3 linked regions of the Homo sapiens genome follow. The protein of the gene in region 3 purifies or fractionates together with the protein of the main gene of each other region. This does not show direct contact. Each region holds a gene or a part of one and is shown on either strand. Other genes may lie near its edges.

Region 1 (7,676 bases), on a different chromosome or scaffold from region 3:
AAGAGGAGAATAAAAATTGTCCAGGTGTGGTGGCTCATGCCTGTAATCCCAGCACTTTGGGAGGCCGAGGCGGGCAGATCATGAGGTCAGGAGTTCGAGCCCAGCCTGGCCAACATAGTGAAACCCCGTCTCTACTAAAAATACGAAAAATTAGCCGGATGTGGTGGCAGGCGCCTATAATCCCAGCTACTAAGGAGGCTGAGCGAGGAGAATGGCTTGAACCCTGGAGACGGAGGTTGCAGTGAGCTGAGATCGCGCCATTGCACTCTAGCCTGGGCGATAGAGTGAGACTCTGTCTCAAAAAAAAAAAAAAAAGAAGAGAATAAAAATCACCTCCCAGGCTGAGCTACGTGGCTCACACCTGTACTCCCAGCACTTTGGGAAGCTGAAGCGGGTGGATTGCCTGAGTTCAGGAGTTTGAGACCAGCCTGGGCAATGTGGTAAAACCCTGACTCTACAAAAAATACAAAAATTAGCCATGCATGGTGGCATACACCTGTAGTCCCAGTTACTTGGGACACTGAGGTGAGAGCATCTCCCGAGCCCAGGGAGGTTGAGGCTGCAGTGAGCTGAGAGCGCATCACTGCATGCCAACCTGGGTGACAGAGTGAGACCCTGTCTCAGAAAAAAAAAAAAAAAAATCACCTCCCAGACATGCTTTACTTATGACTGGTTATAGACCACATATCGTTATTCATTTTGTCAACTATTAACATAGTTTTCATGCTTTTTGCAGCACTATAATTTACTTCCATGAATCTGTTAAATGTACTGTCAGCGCAACTCATCTTCCCAAGAGAAATTTTAATTGTTGCTTCTTCTCACTCAGTCTTAACTTTCCTGATTAATCCACTATAGCTTTTTTTTTTTTTTTTTGAGACAGAGTTTCGATCTTGTTGCCCAGGCTGGAGTGCAATGGCACGATCTCAGCTCACTGCAACCTCCCCCTCCCGGGTTCAAGCAATTCTCCTGCCTCAGCCTCCTGAGTAGCTGGGATTACAGGCATGTGACACCATGCCCTGCTAATTTTGTATTTTTAGTAGAGACGGGGTTTCTCCATGTTGGTCAGGCTGGTCTGAAACTCCCGATCTCAGCTGATCCACCCTCCTCAGCCTCCCAAAGTGCTGAGATTACAGGCATGAGCCACCGCACCTGGCCTTTTTTTTTTTTTTTTTTTTTTTTTTTTTTTTGAGACAGGGTCTCTGTCACCCAGGCTGGAGTGCAGTAGTGCAAATATGGCTCACTGCAGCCTTGATCTCTTGGGTTTAAGCAAACCTCCCACCCCAGCCTCCTGAGTAGCTGGGACTACAGGTACACACCACCATCATGCCTGGTTAATTTTTTACAGAGATAGGGTCTCACTCTGTTGCCTTGGCTGGTCTCAAACTCTGAGGTTCAAGTGATCCTCCTGCCTTGGCCTCCTAGATTGCTGAGATTACAGGCATGAGCCACCATGCCTGGCCCACTACAGCTTCTTGACTTCTTGATTATCTATACATTCTGTGTCTGTCACAGCCCAGGACTTGGCTTACCCAGGTGACATTTTTGGCAGGAATTCTCAGCTATGTTCCTGTCCCTGCCTGCTACCTAGCTGCTCCCTGCAGTTCTCAACTTTCTTGGCAGGAAAACTAAAGAGTTTTATGATCACCTTAATTCAGAATAATTCAACCAATAAGTCCAAACAATGTCTGGTACCCCACCCTCTTTGATTCTCTGCATTTCCTTGCAAGCCCCCAATGTTTGATTGCTTCCATTCATTCCAGCTACATGCCAAGTGTGGTCAAACTAATATTTCCTACAGATATAGGTAATTATAATAGTGAGGGGATGAAGTAATGGGAAATGCAAGGGTGTCCTCCAAGTATTAAATCTACCTTAATATAGAGCTTGGGGCCTGGAGCTAAGTAATTATCATATGCCTGACATTTTCATTGCATGTGTCAGTTTACAAAGCTGTTTCAGACACATCATCATCACAGCAATCTAGATGCTATTGTTTGCCTACCCAACAACCCTCCCTGCAGCTTCCTCCTCACTGAGAGAATGCCTATTTTGTTCAGTACCCACCCTCCATCCAACAGCCATGTATTACAGGTGAGTTGTAGATCATCCTCCTCCCACCTCCACCAGCTTTGAAGTCGCTTTCCTTTTATGCCTGGGAAAGTGATATAAGTATGGCCAAAAGGAGTGAAAGAAAGTCTGCTGTGAGGGGTTCTAGAATAAGTTTCCTTGCCTTTAAAAAAATAAAAAATAAAGCAGGCCGGGCGTCATGGCTCACCCGTATAATCCCAGCACTTTGGGAGGCTGAGGTGGGCGGATCATGAGGTCAGGTTCAAGACCAACCTGACCAACATGGTGAAACCCCGTCTCTACTAAAAATACAAAAATTAGCTGGGTGTGGTGGCGCATACCTGTAGTCCCAGTTACTTGGGAGGCTAAGCCAGGCGAATTGCTTGAATCCCAGAGGTGGAGGTTGCAGTGAGCCGAGACCGTGCCACAGAGCAAGACTGGGGGGGAGGGGCAAAAAAGACCCGACAAGATAACCTCTTTTTTGGCTATGGAGATTGCCCTGTTGGATGTAACCATCCACACATCCCATTCTGGGACCACTAGTGTCTTAAGTATCAGGTAAGACTGTTTCAGGTTGAAGACATTATTAGGAATGGCAGAGTGGGCATATACAAGTAAATGATACTCCTTGTATTATCCTTGAGCTGTTTTTCTTACTACACCAAAGACCCTACCTCTGGACTTCCAACTACGCATTTGTAAGCCCAGAGAATTCTGATTCCATTAAAATTTGAGAGACACTGACTTCTAAGTCCACAACTATGAACTTTCTCCACCCTTACTAGCTAAGTAGACTTAGGCAAATTATTTAACTTTTATGGAATCTACTTCTTTGTCTGTAAAAAGGGAACTAATATCCACTTTAAGGTCTTACTGCGAGAATGTATAGTTAAGAAGATTTGATGGAGCCGGGCGCAGTGGCTCATGCCTGTAATCCCAGCACTTTGGGAGGTAGAGGCGGGCAGATCACCTGAGGTTAGGAGTTCGAGACCAGCCTGGCCAACATGGTGAAACTCTGTCTCTACTAAAAAAAAAAAAAAAAAAAATAGCCAGGCATGGTGGTGCATGCCTGTAGTCCCAGCTACTTGGGAGGCTGAGGCAGGAGAATCGCTTGAACCTGGGAGGTGGGGGTTGCAGTGAGCCAAGATTGTGCCACTGCACTCCAGCCAAGCGACAGAGTGAGACTCTGTCTCAAAAAAAAAAAAAAAGAAAAGAAAAGAAAAGAAAGAAGATTTGATGGAAGACAATTTGGAAAGTGTTGTAAGGTCCACGGACTCTACTCACAAAGTCTCCCAAACTTGCTTGCTGATAGGAATGGACACGCTGGTTACATAAGCTAATCCCAGGTGCCCGATCCCCGGAAATTCTGATTCAGTGTTTCCTAATGGACCCTGGGAGTCTGCACCTTTAATAACACATTCTAGGCTCCAGGTAAGTGTGGTGATCAGGCAAGTTTGAATTTAGCAAAGGAATACAGGATGCAGTACTCCTGTCCAGCAGGACTCAGATTTCTGGTTTCTGATTCTAGATCTGACGCTATTCCACTTGGGCAAGCAGTTGCACCTTTCTGAACCTTTTTACTCATCTGTATACCTGTTCAATATAACCTACAGGTAGGTCTATGGTGGACCGAAGGCAAATTATATTTGGGGTGAAGGGGCTCCTGATCTTAGTATTTTATGTTGTCGTAATGTGGATTAATTAGACATAATTAATTTATTAACAATTAATTAATTAGACATAAGCAAAATTGAGATTGAAGGGGGTGTTGGCAGATCATCATTTTGGCTGAGGACATGAGAAACACACTGGAAATGCTTTGTGATAAAATTAACTGAATATTAATTGTAGGACTGTGCCTTGTCTATCCTGCTACCTAGAGCCACTGAGCTTTGCAATCCTCTTAGGAGTGTGGCTTACCTTTAGGTGGTCACCCTCAACTACTCTGGTCACACTGAGAGCTGTGAAAACCTCGAGAAAAGTTAAAAACATACATGTTGGGAGACAGGGGGTTTGGATGAGGGCCCTAAATTCGATGTTTAAGCCTAGGGTCCTTACTGGCGAACACTTTCAGTAATGTCTGTGTGCAACAGAAACATTTCTCTTGGCATTAAAAAAAAAAAAAGAAAGAAAGAAAGGATGTATTCCCTTAGCTTCAGGTGGCATTCACGAAGTTGACAGAGCCAGAACACCTCCTAACTGGGGAGTTTCGGGACCTTTAGGGCGCAGAGACTGCCTGACCTCGTCGTGGGCGTAAATCAAGCTTCCCCAGCGCTTAACTTTACAATTTTCAGCTTACGCTTGGCTGCAGCTGCGCACAATCCGCGCAGAAGCAGGGGTTCCGCTGACAAACGTGAACGTACAGAACGTAGAAACCTTTTAACGCTAATATGCAGTTTCCCTGTATGGCTGTTGTGCATTATTAATCTAGGTATTGCGTATTTAGTTTAGGAAACACGAATACTACATGATAAATGAGGTAAAATGGATTGTGACTGGGACCTCAGCTTCTCCGTCGCCTCCACTCCTCCCAGCTCAGGAAAGACCAGCCCACCAAGACGTGCGTCCTCCGCGTTTGAGTCGCTTCGGCACCCGTAGTTGTGAACTTTGACAGCGGCTGGTCCCCGGAAGTTGGACGCATGCGCCGTTTCTCTGCATGGTGTGCGTTCTCGTTCTAGCTGCGGCCGCAGGAGCTGTGGCGGTTTTCCTAATCCTGCGAATATGGGTAGTGCTTCGTTCCATGGACGTTACGCCCCGGGAGTCTCTCAGTATCTTGGTAGTGGCTGGGTCCGGTAAGTATCGAGGAGGCGACTGTCGGACTTGGGTTGGTCACTACAAACCCCAGAGTGCACCGCGACGCTCTTCCCTGGTACCCTTAGCACTTCTTGGAGTGTTGCATGCAGAGATTTGTAGTTTCTCTGCCTTGCCGGAACCGGGCAGTCCAGCCAGGGTAGGGGCTGGTTTGCTGACGCGGCCCAGAGGTTTTTTTTATGACAAGTAATTTACACTTGTCTATAATTAAGACTCTCTGTAGCGTATATTTTTCAAACAATTAGTGAACAGAGAACGTAGAAGCCTTTTGATGCAAACATGCAGTTTCCCCGTATGGCTGTTGTGCATTATTAATCTAGGTATTGCGTATTTAGTTTAGGAAACACGAATGCTACATGACAAATGAGGCAAAATGAATTGTCACATTTATAAATATACAAAGTCCAAGAGGATAAAAACAATGATCTACGGGCTGTAGAACAATACACACGCGGTGGCAGAGTGTGAGCAACACACTGACCTGTCAGGTAATACAATCTAAATCCACCAACTCTGTAGGTGCTTACAATTTTAAATACACATATTTGACAGGGACAGACAGACACACACAGACACAATGTAAACATTTGGGTATGGCAGGAGATTGCATCCAGATAGAACATGTATAGTATGAGTAAATGTACTAAGTTTATGTTCAAGTATAACGCATTACTTTATTCACTTAATCTGTTTTGAGCTGTTAGAAAGACCAAACACTAAACTAACCTCTGGAAATAACAAAACTGACTAACATTACTTGCCACGGAGTGCTGACTCCGTGCTAAGTCCTGTGAGAGATGCAAAGATACAGCAGTAAATGAAATAGAGAATACAAAAAAACTAACAGAAAATAAATCAAAATGAGTATTTGCCACAATGAGATAAATGCTATAATCTTGTAATAATTGTGTAAGAAGTACAAATTGCTATGGCAGTCTTCAGGAAGGGCACTACTTTATCAGGTCTTAAAAAACAGACAGCTTCCTGGAAGAAATGATGCTAAACTGAAACTTGAAAGATGACCCAGAATTAGTCAGATGAGGGACAGCCAGGGTTTCGAGGGCTGGGAGGATGTGAAAAGAAGGTGATAACACTTGGAATGACCAGAGTTGAGAGAACACTATCGTGTAGAGTTCAATGTAGGGAGGTAAACTGAGTCCAGATTGTAAAGAGTATTTAAAATCTTGCTTTTTTTCTTTTTTATACAGAGTCTCACGCTGTTGCCCAGGCTGGAGGGCAGTGGCGCAGTCTCAGCTCACTGCAACTCCACCTCCCAAATTCAAGCCATTCTCCTGCCTCAGCCTCCCGAGTAGCTGGGATTACAGGCGCACCACCACACTCAGCTAATTTTTGTATTTTTAGTACAGACAGTGTTTCACCATGTTGACCAAGGCTGGTCTTGAACTTCCGACCTCAAGTGATCCTCCTGCCTCAGCATCCCAAAGTGCTGGGGTTGCAGACGTGAGCCACCCCTGGCCTAAAATCCTGCTTTATAAAGCAATTGCTGCTACTCCACTGTTGATATCATGTAGGGGTTAAGACCACAGGCCTCTAGGTTGTCATAACACCACACATGAATCACATTTCTGCCACTTACTACCTTGGGGATCTCAGGCAATTAGTTAACCTCGCTGAACCTTCTGTTTCTACATGGGTTGAGAGAGGACAGGAGAGATTAAATAGGATCATATTTAAAGTGTTTAGGCCGGGCGTGATGGTTCACACCTGTAATCTCAGCAATTTGGGAGGCCGATACAGGCGGATTGCTTGAGCTTAGGAGTTGGAGACCAGCCTGGGCAACATAGTGAAACCCTGTCTCTACATTAAAATAAATAAATAAATTAGGTGGATGTGGTGGCATGCACCTATAGTCCCAGCTATTTGGGAGGCTGAGGTAGGAGGATCACTTGAGTCTGGGAGGTGGAGGTTGCAGTGAGCTGAGATTGTGCCACTGCACTCCAGCCTGGTTGACAGAGTGAGACCCTGTCTCAAAATGAAATAAAATAAAATGATATAATCAAAAGCTTAAATTAAAAAATAAAGTGTTCAGTAAAGTGCTTGACATATAGTGTCAACCTAAAATAATCAAAGGGCTCAATATCCAGTTAGAAGAGTTTATTCAAGCACAAAGCGTGAGATTGGGTGTCTGGGGAGCAAACCTATACCAAAGAATGTAATCAGTGCTCCCCATGTGGGGAAGAATGAAGGTAGTTTGTATACGCAAGAACAGAGATGCTGAACAAAATTACAATATTTTCCATACAAAGGCCAACATACAGATACAAGATTTGGTTGGCTACTGTAAGGGCCAAGGGGAAACTTCCCTTTTGCCCTCTGAAGTTTCACTGAAAATCACTGATGAGGCAGAAATAATAGGAGAAAAGGCATACAAATTTATGAAGCATATATGAAAGTGTTCTGAATGAAGACCCAGAGATACAAGGGAAATGGTCTGTTTTTATGCTTAGGTTCAGCAAAGTATGGACAGCCATGTAGAATTATGACTGGACAAAAGGGTATAATTTAATGCTAATAGACAGTAGGGAAGCCCAGCAAGGCCTGTCTAGATTTTTCTTGGTCTCTCTGAGCATGCATTCCTTTCCTTCTGGATGTGGGGTAGGGCCCTCTCTGGAATGGGGGTCTTATGACCTACCGTCAAACAAGGTAGATCAGATAATTTTTTTAATTTAATTAATTAATTTTAAAAATAGAGATGGTGTCTTGCTATGTGTGCCAGACTGGTCTTGAACTCCTGGCCTCAAGCAATTCTCCTGCCTTCCAAAGCGCTGGGATTA
Region 2 (7,021 bases), on a different chromosome or scaffold from region 3:
TGGTTTCAATTTTAACTCCACCACTGACTGGCCTGTGTCCATGGCTTGCCTTCTCTTGCCTCAATTTCCTTTTCTGTAGAAGAGAGAGAGTAGTAACTGTTTGTAGAATTGTTGGGAGGATGACATCAGATGGTGCACATAAAGCGCTGAGACAGTACCTGATACAGCAGGGCCCAGTGAGTCATAGCTGCCCTGTTTTCTTAGGTAATTCAGGCTTTCTCTGCCTTGGCACTGTGGACATTTTGCACGGGAACATTCTGTTTTGGGGGCTGTCCTGTGCATTGTTGGATGTTTAGCAGCCTCCCTGGCTTCCCACCCACTAGATGCCATTAGCAACTCCTTCTCCCCATCCCCAGTTGTAGCAAGCAAAACTGTCTTGGTGGATGTTTTTTGGGGGATACAGTTGCCCTGGTTAAAATCTACTGGGAGCTGCTCTCTCTCCTCTGTGCTGCTGTTGCAGCAAAACTCCCAAGAGAAGCGGTATCTGTTTATGTCTAAGAGTCCAACTCGGGAATCAGACTTCCCCTGCCTCACTTTCCTACCTCCAGGCCGTTGGCTTGGATGAGGGGCTGCACCTCTGTGAGCTCCTCACTTTGGTGAGCAGGCCTCATGGGGCAGCACAAAGCAGATGCTCTGAGTGCTCCATTTCGTGTGCTGTGATTCACATTCCTTCCTCCGCCACTCCAAGTAGCCCTCAGCTACTGGGCATGTTTACTTTAAAGTAAAACCAGGCTTCACCTCTTCTCTGTGAAGGAATAAAACTAGTCTGCCCTTTTCTGAGGTGTCTTAGAACTTCTTAGAATGTTCCTTCATCCCCCTCCCTCCTACTGCACTTGGCGAATCAAGCAGCTTAGAGACCAAGAAACCTTGTACAGGTGGAGCCTCGGCAGCGCTGCCCCGCGCTCCGACCCTGCTTCTGTTTCTTGTCTCTTGGTTGCCTTCTGAGAATCTGCCCTTCCTCTGGGCAGAACTGACTTGACTTTAGTGATGGGCCTTTGGATAGAGGTAATGGCAGGAAGTTAACTAATTTTTTGAATTTCTTGTTTTCTAGTGTGTTCTTATTATTTTAGTACTTTAATGGTATTATGTACTGAATTTTAGCCAATAAAGGGGGAGGGAGGTTGCATCAGTACACTTAAAAGTGTGTGTGTGTGTGTGTGTGTGTGTGTGTGTGTGTGTGTGTGTGTGTATTTTGGAGACAGGGTCCTGCTGTTACCCAAGCTAGAGTTCAGGGGCATGATTATAGCTCACTGTAGCCTCAAATTCCTGGGCTTAAGCAATCCTCCTGCCTCAGCCTCCTGAATAGCTGGGACTACAGGCATGCACCACTACACCTGGTGATTGATTGATTGGTTGGTTGTAGACACAGGGTCTCTTTGTGTTGCTCAGGCTAGTCTTGAACTTCTGGGCTCAAGTGATCTTCCTGCTTTGGCCTCCCAAAGTGCTAGGATTACAGGTATGAGCCACTGTGCCCAGCCAAAAATATTTTTATAAAGTCGGAGCTTTTGTGTTGTTTGGGAGGATTTCTTTACAAATCGATTATTTTTATGTCAGTGGGTGTCTTAGCTCCATATGTAGAGTATACAGTATGGTTTTATAACTTTTGATTTACACAGACATACCTTTGGAGCCATGGCCACAGTTAAGATAGTGGGCATATCAATAGCTCTGGGTCCTTTTTTGTTGGAGACAGGGTCTCACTCCATTGCCCAGGCTGGAGTGCATGATGTGATCATGGCTCACTGCAGCCTCGACTTCCCAGGCTCAGGTGATTCTCCCACCTCAACCTCCCAAGTAGCTAGGACTACAGGCATGTGCCACCACGCCCAGCTAATTTTTAAATTTTTAGTAGACATGAAATATTGCTGTGTTGCCCAGGCTGGTCTTGAACTCATGGGCTCAAGCAATCCACACGCATCAGCCTCCCAAAGTGCTAGGATTATAGGCATGAGCCACTAGTGCCCAACCTAACCCTGGGTACTTAAAAGAGAAAAATCTAGATATGGTTTGTAGTAGCCAGTTGGAGGCTACCGTGTTTTGTGTGAAACTGTCATACTTAGAATGGTTTAGAAAGTCTTAGGAGAATGCCTGCCTGTTAGGTTGGTTTAACTTGTAATGGGCTGTGAGGGGTTGTTGCCGTGTGGTGGGGGTCCTTCCCTCAGAGAGGCCTCACCCGCCTTGCTGTGCTTCTGGTGCTAGAGTTTCAGTCCTAGTTGCCCCTGAGGCGCTTGCGACTGTAGCCGCTCAGTATCTGTCTTCTAGTCTGTGACTTGAATGGGAGTTGGGGGAGCAGAGGAACTGGGAGTGAAGGGCTCTGGGTTGGGCTTGATTGTTGTGATTTTCTCTCTTTTTTTGTTTTTTGAGATGGAGTTTCGCTCTTGTTGCCCAGGATGGAGTGCAGTGGCGCGATCTCAGCTCACTGCAGCCTCCACCTCCCTGGCTCAAGTGATTCTCCTGCCTCAGCCTCCCGAGTAGCTGGGATTACAGGCACGCGCCACCACGCCTGGCTAATTTTTTTTGGTATTTTTAGTAGGGACGGGGTTTCTCCATGTTGGTCAGGCTGGTCTCGAACTCCCGACCTCTGGTGATCCCCCTGCCTCAGCCTCCCACAGTGCTGGGATTACAAGCATGAGCCACAGTGCCCCGCCGATTCTCTCTTTTGAGGCTTTTCCTGCTCGGGGACTTCTGGTTTCCCAGTTCTCTGTTGTTTTCTGAAAGGAAAGACTGTGAAATGACCCAGAACAGTTCCTACTCAGAGTTTAGAAGACACTGTCTTGGCATGATGCCTGAGTTGGGAATAGATGCCGCTGGCCCCCCAGGCTTCCTGCACACTCCCTGACCAACAGACTGAGTGTGTTTGCTGTGATCCCACTGACAGAAATTACCAAGGCCATCTGGGCATGCCTGTACCTGTGCTGCCGGATGCAGTTTGGTCAGCAACAGACCACAATATGATAGTGGTCCCATAAGACTATGATGGTGCTGAAAAATTCCTGGCACCTGGTGACGTTGGAGCTACCATGTTGAGGGCAGTGTATTACTCGTGTCTGTGGTGCTGCAGTAGGTGTGACCAAACCTACTGCCCCAGTCATACCAGAGTATACACCTACAGTTACGTACAGTACCATACAGTACGTAATAATTGATGATAAACGACTGTTACTACTTTGTGTATTTGCTATACTTTTAAGAGCATATTCTGCCTACTTACTAGAAACAAAGTCAACTGTAAAGCAGCCTCAGGCAGGTTCTTCAGGAGGAATCCAGAAGAAGGCAATTGGTGTGACAGGAGATGACAGCTCCATGTGTGTTGTTGCCCCTGAATACCTTCCAGTGGGGCAAGATGTGGAGGTGGAAGATCCAGACCCTGTGTAGGCCTAGGCTAATATGTGTTTTTTGTGTCTTTTTGGGTTTTTGGTTTTTTTGTTTTGTTTTGTTTTGAGGCAGGGTCTCTCCCTCACCTGGGCGGAAGTGCAGTCATGACTCATTGCAGCCTTGACCTCCTGGGCCCAAGTGATCTTCCTGCCTTATTTTTGATTTTTTGTAGAGATGGGGTCTCACTGTGTTGCCTGGGCTGTTCTCGAAATCCTGGGCTGAAGCAGTCCTCCTGCCTCGGCCTCCCAGAGGGCTGGGATTATAGGCATGAGCCACTGTGCCTGGCCGTGTCTTCATTTATAACAAAAAAGTTCAAAAAGTTAAAAAAAATTTAATAGAAAAAAGCTTATGGAATAAGGATATAACAAAAAAAATTTTTGTACAGCTATATGATATATTTGTGTTTACAAAAGAGTCAAAAACCTTAAAGCTTTTAAAAAAGTAGTTTGTAAAGTAAAAAAGCCATAGTAGGCTAGGGTTTATTATTGAAGAAAGGAAAATTTAAAAATTGAGTGTAGTGTTAAGTGGACGGTGTTTCTAAAGGTGACAGTGGTGTCCAGTGAGGGCCCAGGCCTTCACATTCTCTCCCTGACTCACCCAGTGCAACTCAGGCCTACCTGCTCCATTCACCGTAAGTGCTCTGTACAGGTGTCCCGTTCTTGATTTCTTATACCGTATTTTTACTGTACCTTTTCTGTGTTTAGATAATGTTTAGACACACAGATACTTATCATTGATGTACAGTTACTTCCATTATTCAGTACAGTTACACACTGTACAGGTTACGGCCTCAGTGTGTGGTAAGGATACTGCCTCCATGCTCACACGTCTCTGTTTGTGTGAGGACACTGATCACACAGTGACGAAATTGCTCATCAGGTTTTGGGTGGTTTTTTTTCACTGAACACAATGCCTCATCAGAGCATCTAGGACTTCTTTGAGAACAGCCTGGAGATGCTTGGCACAGGGCTTCCTGCTGTGCCTGGGCAGCTCTGGTGGGCCCGGGGTGACCTGAGGGCCAGCAGGGGAGTGTCAGTTTCTTGTGGCTGCATCTAAAAATATGGGCTTCCTTAAAATACCCAGTGGCAGCGCCTGCTAAGTAGGCATTTGCCATCACAACGGCTTCCCAGAAACGCAGCTGGAAGGACATAGTGGGATCTTAACGTGCTTCTTACTGGCAAGTTGCTGAAACAAATGCAGAAATTCTGTCAGAAACTGCTGTCTCTGCATATTGATGCCACCAGCTGAGGGGCTGAAATTGCAGCCTCAGAGGGACCAGTCCTGAAAACAGATCTGAAAAGTGAGCAGCCAAGTAAGTAAATTAGGGTTTTTCGGTTATTTTCCTCTAACATTTTCTCTGTGCTCCCTAAGGCTTCTCCTGAAGAACAGGTCATCCTGGTAGGCCTGTTCCCAGTCCTGGGTCAGAGCTGCTTCCCAGGAGCCATATCACTCCCTCACTTTTCAGCAGTACCCTTAATACTTTTCCATTTTACATAATTAATTATTTTGTTTTGTTTGTTTGTTTTTATTAAGCAAATGCTTCTCTCTGTTCCTCTTGGGCTTCTGAAGGGATCCTTTCTGCTTCTCCCTCTAGTCTCTCCTTTTGGTCATTCCAACTCCATCTCAGAAAAATGGATATAGGAAGTAAACTTAACCATTGAACTTCAACTTAAATGGTTCTGGTCATTCGGATGGAAGTTTCTTTTTTTTAATGTGGTTAAATTTGAGTAAATATGTAAAACTGCTCTTAGTTCTTTTTTGTTTGTTTTTGTTTTTTTTTTTTTGAGACGGAGTCTCACTCTGTCACCCAGGCTGGAGTGCAGTGGCGTGATCTTGGCTCATGGCAGCCTTCACCTCCCAGGTTCAAGCGATTCTCCTGCCTCAGGCTCCGGAGTAGCTGGGACTACAGGTGCCTGCCACCATACCCGGTTTAGTAGAGACGGGGTTTAACCATATTGATCAGACTAGTCTCGAACTCCTGACCTTGTGATTCACCTGCCTCGGCCTCCCAAAGTGCTGGGATTACAGGCCAGAGCCACTGTGCCCGGCTAAAAATGTGTTAGCCTTTCTTCGATGAGGTCGTCAGTTCTCCGCAGGGGCTGCAGTGAGGCGCCTAGCATGTGGAAGTGTTCAGCAGTCTTCTGTGGAGGCGGCTGCAGAGTAACAGGATCATGGTTTTGCTTGTATTGTCCTTAAAAGATCTGTTTATGCCACTCATTTACGAGGACCAAAATATGCTTGCTCAGAGGTAGTAATGTGTTAAGAACAAGCTTTGAATTTGTTCTTTTTTTTGGAGGGGGGTGGGGGGGACAGAGTCTTGCTCTGTCACCCAGGCTGGAGTGCAGTGGCTCGATCTCGGCTCACTGCAAGCTCCGCCTCCCGGGTTCACGCCATTCTCCTGCCTCAGCCTCCTGAGTAGCTGGGACTACAGGCACCCACCACCACGCCCGGCTAATTTTTTGTGTTTTTAGTAGAGAGGGGGGTTTTACAGTGTTAGCCAGGATGGTCTTGATCTCCTGACCTTGTGATCCGTCCACCTCAGCCTCCCAAAGTGCTGGGATTACAGGCATGAGTCACCGTGCCCGGGGTTAATGCAGCTGTATCCCTGAGAAGTAAACTTTCACACTCATAACTCAGTGCCCATGGAGCCGTGGCACTAAGGAATGTTGAGGGAGCAGCACAGCTCGCCTCCAGCACTTGGCAGCGAGTGAGCGCTGAACCTGTGCCTGGCTGTGCGGGAGACAAAGGGAGATCAAAGGCCCTGAAAGGAGGCTGCATGTGTTTTCCAGGCAGCCCGAACTGTGCGTTTCCAGTTGTCTCCCACGCACTGTGACCAGGACTGTGAATGGGACAGCTTCCCTCACCAGGGAAGGAGTGTGGGGCAGCAGCCTGACATGTGGCTCATAAAGAAGGCAGAGGACAGCATCTCCAGGTTTTCTTATGTACAGAATGACTGACTTCACATAGCTTTACAAATTAACCTGCTTCTTTACCTTCAGAGTTTTGGAGGAAAGATGGCAGATGTAATAGGAAATGGGCTGTCAGTGAGATTGAGGTAAAAATGGAAATCCGGCCCACAGAACCCCAGGTCACTGTATCCAGCCTGCCTGTGTGGCCGTGGAACCCGGTGAGCACAGAAAGTATCAGGAGGGTTTAGGGCTGCCAGCAGAGCTGATTAGCGTCACCGTCTTCTGTGGCTCAGGATGTGAATGGTGGTGATCTGGAGCTGAAGGATTTGCAGAGTACTGGCTAGAACTGCAGGCCCTGCACCTTGGGTAGAGGGAAGCTGGATGGGTCATTTATGGGCTCTCTGTCTGTGCAGCGTGTGTGCTAGGTGTGTCCATTTAATACTTAAAACGGATTTTCAGGAATGTTACATGCCTCATGTAATGTGGATTTTTTCATGTGGTAAGTGATGTCCTGTCTTAGTTAAGGCTTTAGGTGTAAGTCAGAAGTGTCCCTGGGCATCTGTTTCTGTGGCCTGACTCCTCTGGTTGGTGTTGGGGCCAAGTGGATTAGAATACCACACAGCCATCGAGGTCTTTTTTTCCCATCTGCTCTTTTTGCGTGGAAGGAAGATGTGTTGTGATTGCAGCGCTGCTGAGGAGCACGTGTCCAGCTAATGGGAGGAGGAGGGCTGGCTTCC
Region 3 (7,698 bases):
TGTCCACCCTACCCCCAGCTTCTGTGCTCCTGGCCCAGCAACACTGAAGACCTAGGAGACACCAGACCACACTCCAGGGGCCAGGCAGAGGGTCCCATACCCCAGACCCGCGCTGCCTGCCCCTGCAATGGCATAGCCTGCTGTCAGACCCCAAGTGGGGTCATAAACAGAGAACTGAAATGCCTGGAGGATGGACATACACTCTCAGTATCTCCCAACGAGAGATAATAGCTGAGCACTGACTGTGCCAGGCATGATTCTAAACCCTTTAAATGATCTAATTCATTTCATCCTCACAGCAACCTTATAGAGTACTATTCTCCCATTTTGCAGATGAGTAGAATGAGGCACACAGAAGTGCCACAGAGGAAATGATGGCCCCGGGATAGGAATCATGAGGCCAGCCCTGGAGCCCACAGTATGAACCAGCATCCTGGATTCCCTTTCCTAGACACCTGCAATGTGCTTAAAGGTGGCTGGGGAGGGTTAGCCGACATCAGCCACGAGGGAGTTGTTCCTCTTAAATGGATTTTCTAGATAACCCACTTGGGCCTCTCTGAGTACCCCTGGCACATGTGAACATTTTAACCCTCTTTGGCCCCCTCTTCAAACCTAGCAACGACTCTGGCCTCTGAGGGTGGAGGCGCTGAGCCGAGACCAGCTGCGCACTGGCGTGCTTCACTCCTGCAGGATGCTTTCCAGTCTGCCAAGACTGTCCTGATGGAACTCCTGCCGGGGCTGTGCACCTGGGCAAAGTCGCTCCTCTCTGGGCTTCAGTTTCCTCATCTGTGAGTTGGAAATATAGGACTAAATGGCTTTCGCAGCCTCCTTGCCTTTTTCATTTTATTACGGTAAAAAACCCATAACTTGTACTACCTTAACTCTTTTTTTTTAATTGTTGTTTTTGTTTTGTTTTGTTTTGAGACGGAGTCTCACTCTGTCACCCAGGCTGGAGTGCGGTGGCGCAATCTAGGCTTACTGCAATCTCCGCCTCCCGGGTTGAAGCAATTCTCCTGCCCCAGCCTCTCAAGTAGCTGGGTCTACAGGCATGAGCCCCTATGCCCAGCTAATTTTTTGTGTGTGAATTTTTTTTTTTTTTTCAGTAGAGACGGGGTTTTACCATGTTGGCCAGGCTGGTCTTGAACTCCTGACCTCAAGTGATCCGCCCGCCTCAGCCTCCCACAGTGCTGGGATTACAGGTGTGAGCCACTGTGCCTGGCCCTCCCTTAACCATTTTTAAGTGTATAGTTCAGTAGTGCTAAGTCCATTTACAGTGTTCCGAAACATCTCCAGAACATTTTCATTTCACAAAACTGAGACTCTGTACCCATTAATCAACCCTCTATTTCCACCTCCTCCCAGCCCCAGGCAACCCCCATTCTACTTTCTATGAATTTCACTGCACGAGGGCCCTCATTTAAGTGGATGATGCAGTATTTGTCCTCTCATTACTGGCTTCTTTCACTTCATGTCCTCAGTGTCCATCTGTTGTAGCATGTGACAGGATTTCCTTCCTTTTTAAGACTGAATAATATTCCATTGTATGCATAGACCACGTTTTATTTTTTATTTTTAATTTTATTATATTATAATTAATTATTACTCCAGGCTGGAGTGCAATGGTGCGATCTCGGCTCACCGCAACCTCCACCTCCTGGGTTCAAGCCTTTCTCCTGCCTCAGCCTCCTGAGTAGCTGGGATTACAGGCATGCGCCACCATGCCTGGCTAATTTTTGTATTTTTAGTAGAGACAGGGTTTCTCCATGTTGGCCATGATGGTCTCAAACTCCTGATCTCAGGTGATCCGCCCGCCTCAGCCTCCCAAAGTGCTGGGATTACAGGTGTGAGCCACCGCGCCTGGCCTGACCACGTTTTGTTTATCCAGTGTCTGTGGATGGACAGTTGTGCTGCCTCACAATGACCTCTTGGCCATTGTGAATAATGCTGCTAAGAAAATAGATGTACAAATATCTCCTCAAGACTCTGCTTTCGGTTCTTTTGGGTATATGCCCAGAAATGGAATTGCTGAATCATAGGCATTTTAAAGCCATTTTCATACTCTTTTCTATAGTTGGCTATAGCACTTCACATTCTTACCCACAATGCACAAGGGTTCTGCATCATTGCCAACACGTGTGATTTGATTTTTTGAGACCAGGTCTCCCTCTGTAGCCCAGGCTGGAGTACAATGGCATGATCTTGGGGCACTACAACCTCTGCTTCCCAGGCTCAAGCGATCCTCCTACCTCAGCCTCCTAAGTAGCTGGGACTACAGGCGCACGCACCACCATGCCCTGCTAGTTTTTTTTTTTTTTTTTTTGTAGAAATAGGGTTTTGTCATGTTGCCCAGGCTGGTCTCGAACCCCTAGGCTCAAGAGATCCTCCCAAAGTGCTGGGATTACAGGCGTGAACCACCATGCCTGGCATGATTTTTTCATTTATGTATTTATTTATTAAAGACGGGGTTCCTGCTATGTTGCCGAGGCTGGTCTTGAACTCCAGGGCTCAAGCAATCCTCCTGCCTCGGCCTCCCAAAGTGGTGGGATTCCAGGCCTTTTTCTTTTTTATAGGAGCCCTCCTAACAAGTGTGAGACAGTATTTCATTGTGGTTTCATTTGCAGCTCTCTGATGATTAGCAATGCTGAGCACCTTTTCGTGTGTGTGTTGCCCATTTGTGTGCAGCCCCTCTTTCCTGAGGAGCATTCTGAGGAGCTCCGCCTGGCCTCCACAGTGATCCCTTCGAGGAGGACTTGGCCAATAGGGCTGTGATCCCTGCCCTCACTCACGGCTCTTGCATGATTCTGTGGCCCCCCCTTCATCTTCCCCATCTCTTCTGGGGGCAGCTGGGGAAAGTGGAGGTTCTAACCTATCACAACCCCCAACCACCTCACACACAGGGGCTGAGACCAGGCCAGGGCTGGCTCCAAGGAAGAAGCCCCTAGGATGGCCACATCTGACCACTCAGGGCTGCTGAAGGTGGGGCCAGGGCCAGGTCCATGCCTTCAGTGGATTTTGGTGCAGGGGATGCATTCCTTCAAGAATCTGCCTTCTCCATTCCTGTGCTGTGTGAACATGGTACGGGGTAGGGGTGCCTGCAGCCCCCTTGGGCCAGGGCCACCAGCCATGCTCTTGCACCCCCACACACATGTGCCAGGTTGGGGTTCCAGGATATGGTCAGTGGGTGCCTCAGTGGAGAGGGCCCAGGCAGCCCCGGTGCCTGATGACATCATGGGCCTTGCTGGATGTCCTGACAAGCAAAGGCAGGAGCTCCTGGTACCAGGGAGAACTCGCCCCCTCTGCCCTTCTGGGGATACTGGTCCTCTTTAGACCAAGACAAAATATTAGCATATCAGAGAAATATACTTAGGGTTTTCTAAGTGCATTTCCCCAACCAGCCGGTCAGCATCACCTGTGAACTGGCCATGTAAGTCTCTGCCTCCACACCAGACCCACCGAATAACCCTCCTGGGTGGTTCTGATGGAAGCCTTTCAGGTGGTTCTGATGGAAGATTGACGACCAGCGCTCTGGAAGTAACTTTAGCCTGATTTGAATTCCTTGCTGCTGTGAACGCTTAACTTTTAGGAACAGGTATATTTATCACAAAGAAATCCGAAGCAATTAGGGGAGCTACCTACACTTTCAAAAGGACTTGAATGTATTTAAATTAAAAAAAGCGGATGGGGCCCGGGTGCAGTGGCTCATGCCTGTAATCCCAGCATTTTGGGAGGCGGGAGGGTCACTTGAGTCCAGGAGTTCAAGACCAGCCTGGGCAACATGGCAAGACCCATTTCTACAAAAATAAAATAACACCAAAAATTAGCCGGGTATGATGGGGCGCGCCTGTAGTCCCAGCTGGGGACTCCCGAGACTGAGGTGGGGGTATCTCCTGAGCTTAGGATGTTGAGGCTGCAGTGAGCCGACATCATGCCACTACACTGCAGCCTGGGCGACAGAGTGAGACTCCTGTCTCAAAACAAAAAAGAGGGGCGGGGAAGCAGTAACAAGCACAGGTGTCCTCAGCCCATGGATGGCAGCGCCCGCCTCCACGCGCCAGTGCCCTCCTGCTCCCCTACCTCCCCCTTGGCCACCCCTGGGCATCCCCAGCCCTGCAGCGCCGAGGGCGGAGGGGAGGCCACCCGCCCCCAGCAGAGGGCTCCGAGAGAGCTGCAGCGGCGGTGGGGGCCCCGCAGAGATTGGGGCCCATGGTTTGAAGGCTGTTCACAGGCACCCCGAGACAGCGTCCCCCCTCTGGGCGCACTGGATTTGACGTTGCAGGACGCGCGGCTGGAAGCCCCCCAGGCCCCGCTGCTCACAGACCGGGACTCCGCCTCCGGTTCCCGAGGGCGTGGCGAGGCGCTGCGGGACGCCCAACAGGTGCGTGTTGTGTCCCCAGGCCCCGCGCTCCGGGTGGAGTCAAGAACCTGGAAGCCGGCAGCCCGGGAAAAGGGGGCGGGACGGTGCCCCGGGGCAGGGCTGGGTGGCGGCCGCTGTCCTCCCGGGAGGGGCGGGCCGCCTCGACGCCGCCCTCCCTGGCGGCCAATGGAGACCGAGGCCCCGCGCCTGGATTGGAGCGGACGCGGGGGGTCAGCCAGCCTTGGGGGCCGGGGCCTGGCCGGGGGCGGGGGGGCAGGCGAGGCGAGGCGGGCGCCGTCCGCGCGGTTATAAGGCGGGGAGTTCCCTGCGCCGCGAGCCGGGAGGCGCACGCTCGCTCGTACGGCGGCCGCGGCGGCAGGGCGGGGCCGGAGCAGCGGGCGGCGGCGGAGGCGGCGCCCGGGAGCGCTCTTCGCTTCCCTCGGGGTCTTGCTCGGACCTCGGCCACCGCCTGGGATCCCCAGGACTCGTGCGTGCAGCATGGGCGGCGTCGGGGAGCCGGGACCGCGGGAGGGACCCGCGCAGCCGGGGGCGCCGCTGCCCACCTTCTGCTGGGAGCAGATCCGCGCGCACGACCAGCCCGGCGACAAGTGGCTGGTCATCGAGCGCCGCGTCTACGACATCAGCCGCTGGGCACAGCGGCACCCAGGGGGCAGCCGCCTCATCGGCCACCACGGCGCTGAGGACGCCACGGTAAGGAAGCCATAAGGAAGCCACCCACCGGCGGGTGGAGCCTGGAGCTCGGTCGTGGGCGTGATGTCCCGCTCCACCTGTGGGGCCTTAGCATCCTCCCTCCCCTCGCTGACCTTTGACCTCCACGCCGGGACCCAGAGTTGGGGTGGACTAGCCAGGGCCAGATGTGGGGTAGGGAGGGCAGTTCCCTGCGTGGAGGACCCGCAGCTGTCCACGGAGCAGGTCTGCGGGGGAGGAGGGGGCCTCAGAGGTGGGTGTGTCATGCTGCAGAGCCTGCCCTGGGTGAGGGGCTGCCCTGTTGCTCCCAGGTCCCTGTTTCAGTTCTGGGTCCCCATGCTGGGTGCTTGCTGAGTGCTAGGGGTAGGGCAGGGCAGGGTCCCCAGGGGCCGGTAAGGACATGCCATTAGAGGCTGGGGGCTGGGCCGGCCTGAGGTCTGTGGCTTTCCCAAGAGCTTCTGTAAAGGGCTCAGGGACAGTGACTCACCTCTCCGGGCTAGCAGCTGCACGTGGGAGGGCTTTGCCAGCCAGGCTGGGTGGGCCTCTCCTGGAAGCACAGTCACCCCAGGAACAGGCTGGCCCCTGGGGACCCCAACTTCCCAATCCCAGCCCCTGTCTAGACAGGCAGGGATGTAGCCTGGCCCCAGGGTACTGTCTGGCTGGAGTCCAGTGGTGGAGCAGCCCGACCAGCCCCTTTTCCTTAGTTACCCACCTGCATAATAGGGGTTGGGGCCACGATGCCCTGTCCTTGACCCTCCAAATTTCTAGGTTGGCCACACTGGGTATCAGGAAGGTCTTCAAGACCCGAGGACATGAATCCTGAATGCTGGCTTTTTGGGCAGCAGCGGAGGTTCTGTCCAGTCCCAGGACTGTCGGCGTCCCTCTTGACAGGGCCACCTGCTCTCTGCCGATTGCCATCTCCAGCATGTTGGACAATCTTCACTGGACTCTTTGAGGAAGAAAGCCCCTCTTTTCCCCTTCCACCCCATGAAGCTGAGGAGTGAGAATAAGAATCCTCCTGAAATTCTAAAAAAAGAAAAAAAAAAAAAAGAGAACGCCTTGTCCGTGGCTGTTCAGGCGCCAGACGCTGGCCCGAGGGGACAGCACAGCCGTGGGATGAAGCAGCCTGGGGGCAGTATTTGAGCGTGCAGGTGTTTGCATGTCTGGGTGAGTGTGGTGTGTGTGCCTGCCTTTCTGCCAGGGCGTGGCGAGGTGAGGGGCACGGCTTCTCCCCAAAGGCCTTGCTGAGCCCTGGCCTCCCTTCAAGGAGTCTTGTGGATGCCTGCTCTGGTCTTTTTCTAAAAAAGTATCTATTTTATTTATTATTATTTGTTTAAAAATAGAGACAGGGTCTCACTATGTTGCTCGGGCTGGTCTCAAAGTCCTGGGTTCAAGCATTCCTCCTGCCTCAGCCTCCGAAAGTTCTGGGATTACAGGCATGAGCCACCACTCCCGGCCTGCTCTAGTCTTTTGTAACCTAGAGGACAGTATGGATACAGAAAACTTTACTCCCCACCAACCGCCGGAGACAGAGTCTTGCTCTGCCACCCAGACTGGAGTGCAATGGCGCCATCTTGGCTCACTGCAACCTCCGCCTCCCAGGTTCAAGCGATTCTCCTGCCTCAGCCTCCCGAGTAGCTGGGATTACGGGCACGCGCCACCACGCCCAGCATATTGTATTTTTAGTAGAGACGGGGTTTCACCATGTTGGCCAAGCTGGTCTCGAACTCCTGACCTCGTGATCCACCCACCTCGGCCTCCCAAAGCGCTGGGATTACAGGCGTGAGCCACCACGCCCGGCTGGGATACAGAAAGCTTTTATTTCATCACTGTTTCCTGCCTGGTGCCAGGCCCATGCTGGGGTTCCTCCCAAGTGGAATTACTGACTTAACATTTAGCTTGGGATCCTGAGACTTCCATCACACAGTTTTCTCATTGATTCGCAGCCAATAATATCTGTTTTAAAAACATCTCAGGCCGAGCGCTGTGGCTCACACCTGTAATCCCAGCACTTTGGGAGGCTGAGGTGGGCAGATCACCTGAGGTCGGGAGTTTGAGACCAGCCTGACCAACATGGAGAAACCCTGTCTCTTCTAAAAAAATACAAAATTAGCCAGGCGTGGTGGCGCATGCCTGTAATCCCAGCACTTTGGGAGGCTGAGGCAGGAGAATCGCTTGAACCCAGGAGACGGAGGTTCCGGTGAGCCGAGATCGCGCCATTGCACTCCAGCCTGGGCAACAAGAGCAAAACTCCGTCTCAAACAAACAAACAAAAAACATCTCTCTGCTCCTTGGGGCCGGGTGCCAGCTCTGCTATTGGAGGCACTGAGCGACCTTGAAGCAGGCATGTCACTCCTCTGTGCCCCAGTTTACTCATCTGTAAAGTGGGAGAGCTGGGGCAGACAGTGAGCTGGCTGAGGGCAGGACTGTGTCTCCTCAAGCCCATGGCCCAGGGCTGCCAGGTAGTAGTTTGTATTCGGTAAATGCTGCTGGCCCCTAAGTGTGAGCGTGCCCTGCAAACTGCAGCGTATGGTGGGACAGCCCTGCACGGCTACCCCTTTCCTGGGTGACCTTATTTGGTTACGGTCCTATCTGAAGTAGGAAAGGGACACTTTAGGCTGTCTCTTAGCTCCCTC

What was found. Proteins that work in one complex are often made in the same cells at the same time.
Region 1: the proteins of FADS3 (region 3) and ALG14 purify together in Homo sapiens (affinity purification with mass spectrometry; 2 studies listed by BioGRID and IntAct, with this or other methods). This does not show direct contact.
Region 2: the proteins of FADS3 (region 3) and YTHDF1 purify together in Homo sapiens (affinity purification with mass spectrometry; 2 studies listed by BioGRID and IntAct, with this or other methods). This does not show direct contact.

Annotation. Positions count from the first base shown.
Region 1 is NC_000001.11:95,069,949-95,077,624, reverse strand, and holds the start of ALG14 (UDP-N-acetylglucosamine transferase subunit ALG14), read left to right. Parts: upstream 1-4,673; 5' UTR 4,674-4,726; coding exon 4,727-4,862; intron 4,863-7,676. UniProt on the Homo sapiens protein: Part of the UDP-N-acetylglucosamine transferase complex that operates in the biosynthetic pathway of dolichol-linked oligosaccharides, the glycan precursors employed in protein asparagine (N)-glycosylation.
Region 2 is NC_000020.11:63,206,129-63,213,149, reverse strand, and holds part of YTHDF1 (YTH domain-containing family protein 1), read left to right. Parts: intron 1-7,021.
Region 3 is NC_000011.10:61,888,536-61,896,233, reverse strand, and holds the start of FADS3 (fatty acid desaturase 3), read left to right. Parts: upstream 1-4,688; 5' UTR 4,689-4,852; coding exon 4,853-5,065; intron 5,066-7,698. UniProt on the Homo sapiens protein: Mammals have different sphingoid bases that differ in their length and/or pattern of desaturation and hydroxyl groups.